2 linked regions of the Homo sapiens genome follow. The protein of the gene in region 1 interacts with the protein of each later gene in a pairwise test. Each region holds a gene or a part of one and is shown on either strand. Other genes may lie near its edges.

Region 1 (3,500 bases):
CATTAAGACATGTTATAGTACTCTTGACCATGACTTCAGAGTTAATCAACAATACATATTAAATAAGTTGTCTTTAATCAGAAACACACATGAAACAAAGTTATGTATTGATCCATTGACACAAATGTTGTGACAAGAGGCTAGCAGAAACTTAACCCAACATTTCTCCTAGGAGCAGTGGTTCAATATTCACTAATTCAGTGTCCGTGGTGACTTTATGGAATATGACCACCACAAGCAGCAAGAATTGCCTGTAAATAGTACACATTGGTCTAAAAAATCACACAGTAAATATACAACACTACATAAGAGGACAGAATAATTCTGATAAGTGGGACTTGGAAAGGTATCATTCAGAAGGGGATATTTGACCATCCCTTATGGGAATGTGGGACATGGAGTGTAGGAATGACAATGATGTGAATGAACAGTCAAGGAAAAGCCAGCTTTCTCTAAATGTGTCTTAAGTTAAGGGAACCCAGGGTAGGTGATTCATCTAGATGAGGCTGGGCCTTAAGTAGTGAGAAGCTGTGGGATATAGCAGTGTGACTTTGAACAAGTTACTCAGAATCTTATGTCTTAGTGTTCTCATCTATAAAATTGAGATAGTATTAAGTATCACATAGAGGGATTGGGAGAATTCAGTGAGTTATTGCATGTAAAAAATTTAGATAAGTTTCTGACATGGATTAAGTGCATATATAACTTCTAACGTTTATTGTGGAAGCCTTTGAATGTCAGGTTGACAATTCCAATGTCATTCAGTAAGCAATGGAAATTGTTTCTATATCTGTATCTAAATAGATCTACCTAAAACAGAATTGTAATGGCCTCAAAAAACTGGAATAGCAATTTAAAACTATCACATTTTTCAAACTGCAACTGGAAATTTTAAGAATCAATGCATGTCTGCAAAAACCAACTTGTGGCTATTTTTGTTGGTATTACTGCTGTCAATGCCTGACACTTGAGTAGGTCAAGAGTGGCTTGGGAATTAATGATTTTAACTTGTCTTGATTAACAAATGCCTTTGTTTTGTCTTTAGATAAAAGCTTGTCAGATGGAGAAAGAAAAACTAGAAAAGCAATTAAAACAGGTATGTTGATCTAATTTTCACGCATACATTTATTCCCATGTACAGCATTTCTCATTGTCCCAATTAAAGACATGTTCAAGCTCTGCTACAGGTGACCTACAACAACCCATGCTTTTCATTACTGACTACACCATCAACGGATAGACAGTGCTTAGGCACCACCAAGGCCTTTCAACCCTAACACTCATAGAAAGCATATGCTTTATAGAGCATGTTACCAGTAGCACAAGTCTTAGTGCTCCTTAGACCCACAAGCACCTGGAAATAGATTTCATTGGTATTTCATGCAGTTGCTGACACAATTAACAGTAGAAAACTAAATCAAATACTGCCTCTTTTGAAAAAATAACATGCCTTCTTGAGCACTGAAGCATTCTATCCCATGGGTTCTCTAATAGCCTTAAATAATGAATATTATTTGTCCTAATTCCTAATTTCCTTTCTGGATTTTAGTTTTCCCTGGCTACAATTTAAGAAAACCTATTTTATGACTCAATGAATAGATTTTCTTCATTGAGGGCCCTCAATAAAGATAACTCAAAAACATAAAGTTAACTCTATATACTTTTCAAGTGTGTCTAATTTCTTCAAAATGGGGAAATGATTATAGTTTCACCTTAGGTAAAACTTGACCTGTGAGCCTCGTTTGTATTGGTCCTGAGTCTATTGACATGTTTACTATTTTGAGTTATAATTATGCCAGATTAAGTGGAACCTTAAGATTGAAACCAAACCTTTTGTATAAAGCAATGTCACTGCAACTCCTCAGTCTCTCCCACTGGTAGTGACCCCACAGTTTTGTTCTCCTCAGATGTATTGCCCACCCTGTAACTGCGGCTTGGTTTTCCACCTGCAAGATCCATGGGTACCAACAGGCCCTGGAGCTGTGCAGAAGCAACGGGAGCACCCAGTAAGTAAGAGTGCATTTGAAAAAGTGCTTAGTATACTGTTTTGGTAGAAATTATGTGCATCTCTGGAATTTCAGCACATTATATTATCTACAGCAAGAGCCTCTGTTTTCTCTCAGCCTCTAACTTGCAAAGTTGGAGTGGTCAATGTACACTAGAATTATCTTTGGGACACTGAATCCATAGGACACATAGATACGAATAAATTAACTGAAAGGTATTAAATTGGGAATAATTCCTTGAACAACATATAACATTTTCAATTGGCATACTTCATTCTACCCAAAGGACATTTTCTGTATAAAGTGTATTTATGTATAAAGGAAAGTGGATATGGCAAAACAAGAAAAATGAGATGCTTTTGTTCGGTTGTAAATTTATATTGAACTACTATGGATATTGCTACATATGTGCAAAATAGATTTTGACATTTTCCAATTGAAAGGATTTTCTTAAAGGATCCAAGAAAAAGTGACCCACTTAAGTTGTTCTCCATGGCTGTGTCTTCCCAGACAAAATGAAATGCAGAGTTGAGCAATTATTTGTGAGGGGAATTGATTTGGACAGTCAACCTGAATTAGTGAGGCCCAAAGCACCCTTTTTTTCCTTCTCAATAGCAGTATTCCACCTACCCTCCTCTACTTTTTATTTTGCCTACATAGATAGAAATTTATCCAGGAAAAAAATATGCATTTTCTGCATTTTGGATTTACCCAGACAAATCCCGCTACCCTTTAGGTTTGATTAATTGTGTTTCTCATGATGAAAAAATCTAAGATTTTTAACTGGGATTTTCCTACCAGAATGCTTACAGAGAACATGATTCTCTTGGCTTCCTGAAAGTTCTCATACTTTTGTTCGAGTGTGACTCAAAACCCTTTTCCCAAGGGAGGAGATAATGACTCTTTGGGTGGCTGAAGGAATGTGAGGATTTAATGAGCATCTCTTATTTGACCCTGGTATGACACAGCACACCGCTAAGAATTGAGTCTTTTCATGTTATTGCGGGTTGCTAGTTCTGTCTGCTCTCCCTCCCCCTTTTCCTTTTTTTTCTTTACCTGTTTGCTTACTTTTCAGTCTTTACCAATAACATTAAATTTTTTTTTCAAGAATGTAGAAGTCAACTCAGATTGTGAGAAACATAAAGAGAAATTTACTGTAGGAGTGAATTAACCTATAGGAGTTGGCTTCTACAGGTTGGGGGATTGGAGAAATATTCTTATGAAAGGTTAACTATAAAACCAATCAGTCATTCACATTTACCTAGGAGTACAAATTATTGTTTCAGTCAAATATTTCTTTATGGAAAGAAGGAAGGAATTCACCTACTATAGCTCATCAAACAGTCCATGTCAATTAAAAAAGGCAAGGCAGTCCAGGTCACATAAAATTGTCACCAAATAAAGGCCTATATTTGAAAAAGGACTCCAAGCCATGTAGAATGGCCTACATTTTCTTTCTTTTTTTCTTTTTTCTTTTTTTTTGAGAAGGCATCT
Region 2 (4,004 bases), on another chromosome or scaffold:
AGGCGTGAGCCACCGTGCCCGGCCTAACTATCGCCTTATTGGTGATGCCTTCGCCTTATTGGTGATGTCTAAATAAATATTTATTTATTTATTTATTTATTTTGAGATGGAGTCTCGCTCTGTTGCCCAGGCTGGAGTGCAATGGCGTAATCTCGGCTCACTGCAACCTCTGCCTCCCGGGTTCAAGAGTTTCTCCTACCTCAGCCTCCTGCATAGCTGGGACTACAGGCGCCCGCCACCACACCCGGCTAATTTTTGTATTTTTAGTAGAGATGGGTTTTTGCCATGTTGGCCAGGCTGGTCTCAAACTCCTGACCTCAGGTGATCCGCCCACCTCGGCCTCCCAAAGTGCTGGAATTACAGGCGTGAGCCACCGCGCCCCGCCACGATCTTTCTAAAACACACATTTGACCTTCTTTGTTCTAAAAATGTCTCGGTGGACTCCTCGCTGCTCGTGGGGCCAAATCGCAGCTTCCACACAACCCGCCCTGTATGTGGACTGCACTCCGTTTCTAAACTCATCTCTTGCGCCACTCAGCCAGTGGCCCCCAAGGCAGGACTGGTCCTGGCTCAGGATCCAGTCGAAGACACTCATCTCGGGGGTCTTTTCTGACCGCGCTTCCTCCTCTGGCCCTCTAGGCGGCCTGAGCACGCTCACTGACACCGTTTGGCGGCCTGTCACCCGCGTGGCTGGGGCACCTGCAGAAACTGCTGTCGCTGCGAGGTGCCCGTGTGGGTCACCGCTGTGCCAGGGAGAGAAGACGGCGAGGTCGCCCCTGGGAGGCAGAAGGCGAGCCAGGAGCCAGTCCTGGAAGCCAATGAGTGAGTGTGAAGGGTGTTCCGCTGCGTCAGCGAGGCCCGACTGCCCTTGGGAGGAGGAGCCCAGGGGCCAGCGCGGCCCGGGCCGCCCTCGCCTCCCACCCAGGGCGCTGAGCACGCACGCCGCCGGCCTGGCGGCGTTCGCGGGGCCCGGGACCAGCCGCCGCCTTCTCCAGGCGCTCCTACTCTCTGGGCATCTGCAGTCCGAGCGGAAGGGGCGGGAACGTCGGCGACGCCGAGGAGCAAAGCCCACGATCGGCTTCCCGGGGCAGCGGACGGCTGCCTTCCTCCCGGCGCAAACGCACCGCCCAGGAGGGGGCGGGCTCGGCGGGTCGGGGGGCGGGGCCGGGGTCCGAGCTCGGGCCCGCCTCCGCCTCCGCCAGCTCCTGTGAGCTGCCGAGTGCTAGGCACCCGGGCTCTTCTGGGGGCTCCAGGTGAGCGGGGGCACAGAGGGGTCAGGGAGACCGCCCTTGGGGTGGGGCTGTCGGTCTGACCGCGGGTCCATCTGTCCTGCCGTCGGCCCACAGCCTCCTCCGCAGGATGGGAGAACAAAGGGAGGGGGCGGTTCTGGGGCCCCCGAGGGAATCCAGGGTCCCAGGTACCCGGTCCCGCCCACTGACACTTGGGTTTCTCCCCGAGTCAGAGGCGCCGCCCAAGAGACCCTGGGCCGGCGCCGGGCGCAGCTGCCTCTCCGTCTTTGTGTCTGTCTCTGTGTCTGTCTGGCTATCTCCGAGTTTGCCTCCGCTTCCAGAACTAAGCCACCCAGACACCATCATCTCGAAAACCCCAGCCCTTCTCCCATGGCAGGTAAGTGCGCGCAAGTCTGGGGGTCTCCGTTATCCCCCCCACGGACTTGGGAGCCGGGTTTGAACACATCCTCCCGGAATGTGCTCGGACTGGCTGGGTGGGGCCCCTCCCTTCCTTCCGGGGAACCTCCACCCTGCTCCCCTGCCCCATCTTTCTCTGCCTCTTGCCACCACGTTTCCCCCGAAGCCTCGCGGCCCATGGGCTGAGGAATAAGGGGATGAGGCCTTGAGTCCCTTTCTAATCTATCCTGCTCCCACCGCTTTACAGGCTACTTGCCCCCCAAAGGCTACGCCCCTTCGCCCCCACCTCCCTACCCTGTCACCCCTGGGTACCCGGAGCCGGCGCTACATCCTGGGCCCGGGCAGGCGCCAGTGCCCGCCCAGGTACCTGCCCCAGCTCCCGGCTTCGCCCTCTTCCCCTCGCCTGGCCCCGTGGCCTTGGGGTCTGCTGCCCCCTTCTTGCCACTGCCAGGGGTGCCTTCTGGCCTCGAATTCCTGGTGCAGGTGAGTGGGAAGGAGGGAGGGAGGATGACTGGGAGGGGACTTGGGCGTCCAGATGGGCCAGCTGATGTGCGCGCCGCCCCTCTCTTTCCAGATTGATCAGATTTTGATTCACCAGAAGGCTGAGCGAGTGGAAAGTAAGTAGAAGGAGTGGGAGGTTGGACCTCATGATGGTGGCCCGGATGGTGGGCTCCTGGGCGCGCGAGGCTCTACGAGTCTCCCCGTGTCACCTCGGGCAGCGTTCCTAGGCTGGGAGACCTGTAATCGGTATGAACTGCGCTCTGGGGCCGGGCAGCCCCTGGGTCAGGCGGCCGAGGAGAGCAACTGCTGCGCCCGTCTGTGCTGTGGCGCCCGCCGGCCGCTGCGTGTCCGCCTGGCCGACCCCGGGGACCGTGAGGTGCTGCGTTTGCTCCGCCCGCTGCACTGTGGCTGCAGCTGCTGCCCCTGTGGCCTCCAGGAGGTGGGCGGAGGGAGGGGGCCGGGAGGGCGGGCCTTGGTGGGGCGGGACAATGATGAGGTCCACCTGAGATGAGGCCTGGATCAGGTGGGAGTGGGCAGGTGGGGATGGGAGGTTTAGTGAGGGCCAAATAGACAGATGATAGAGCTGGGACCCCTGCCTCCGCAGTGACCCTGTCTGCTTCCCACTCCCAGATGGAAGTACAGGCTCCACCAGGCACCACCATTGGCCACGTGCTACAGACCTGGCATCCCTTCCTCCCCAAGTTCTCCATCCAGGATGCCGATCGCCAGACAGTCTTGCGAGTGGTGGGGCCCTGCTGGACCTGTGGCTGTGGCACAGACACCAACTTTGAGGTATCAGGAATACTAGAGGCTCTTGGGACCTTCGTAAACCAAGATGATGCTTCCATGAGGCAGGATAGTTAACATTAAGGTCAAGACCCTGAGCTCATCAATCCAAATCCACTGTGACTCCGACCGCATTTGTAGCATTCCTCCATTTGGAAATAGGATGGCCCTGTGCTCTTATAAAAGCATAACAACGAGGATTTCATCTTAAGGAGCAATGCTGATTATTACAAGTGGCCCTGAGATGGGCAGAAAAAAAATCTAAGGCCAGCCTGGATTTGGGGTGAAGGACGATTAAGTCTGTGTGGGCCGGGCCCATGTGGCTGCTGTGTATGAGTGTGTGAGCCCAGGCCCTGGAGCAAGCACGATTTTAACATGTTAACATCCTGTGGCCTGCCCTGCTAAAATAGAATCCAAATGCCCCTGCCATTCCGAAATCCAGTATATCCTTCTCACTGTGCATTCCTGTCACCAGTCTGGAAGCTAGAGATCCCAAGTGGCAAGAATTTCAGAGTGAGGTGAGGCCTGGGAAGCACCTTGGTTTCTAGAAGACAAAGGCACTCCACAGACCCTTGAGTTCTTTTTTTGTTTGTTTTTTGTTTGTTTGTTTTGAGACAGAGTCTTGCTCTTGTTGCCCAGGTGGGAGTGCTATGGCATGATCTCAGCTCACTGCAGTCTTTGCCTCCCGGGTTCAAGCAATTCTCCTGCCTAAACCTCCCGAGTAGCTAGGATTACAGGCATGCGCCGCCATGCCTGGCTAATTTTATATTTTTAGTAGAGACGAGGTTTCTCCATGTTGGTCAGGCTGGTCTCGAACTCCTGACCTCAGGTGATCCGCCCACCTCAGCCTCCCAAAGTGCTGGGATTACAGGCGTGAGCCACCGCACCTGACCGACCCTTGAGTTCTTTAAGGGATAATTGCTTGTGCAGATAAGGGAGAAACAACAGGTATAATCCAGTAGACTTTCCAACGCTTCTAATGAGGTACCCTACCTAAGGTTACTTTGCAAAAATGAGTCACCTTGGTAGCCAGAGGGAGATTCCATGATGAGAACCAATTGGGAATAAGAT

What was found. Proteins that work in one complex are often made in the same cells at the same time.
Region 2: the proteins of TNIP3 (region 1) and PLSCR3 interact in binary tests that used the Homo sapiens proteins (3 or more experiments, as listed by UniProt).

Annotation. Positions count from the first base shown.
Region 1 is NC_000004.12:121,140,322-121,143,821, reverse strand, and holds part of TNIP3 (TNFAIP3-interacting protein 3), read left to right. Parts: intron 1-1,045; coding exon 1,046-1,096; intron 1,097-1,907; coding exon 1,908-2,006; intron 2,007-3,500. UniProt on the Homo sapiens protein: Binds to zinc finger protein TNFAIP3 and inhibits NF-kappa-B activation induced by tumor necrosis factor, Toll-like receptor 4 (TLR4), interleukin-1 and 12-O-tetradecanoylphorbol-13-acetate.
Region 2 is NC_000017.11:7,391,726-7,395,729, reverse strand, and holds the start of PLSCR3 (phospholipid scramblase 3), read left to right. Parts: upstream 1-1,204; 5' UTR 1,205-1,253; intron 1,254-1,458; exon of another isoform or gene 1,459-1,462; 5' UTR 1,463-1,619; coding exon 1,620-1,626; intron 1,627-1,893; coding exon 1,894-2,129; intron 2,130-2,220; coding exon 2,221-2,263; intron 2,264-2,365; coding exon 2,366-2,586; intron 2,587-2,751; coding exon of another isoform or gene 2,752-2,777; coding exon 2,778-2,939; intron 2,940-4,004. UniProt on the Homo sapiens protein: Catalyzes calcium-induced ATP-independent rapid bidirectional and non-specific movement of the phospholipids (lipid scrambling or lipid flip-flop) between the inner and outer membrane of the mitochondria.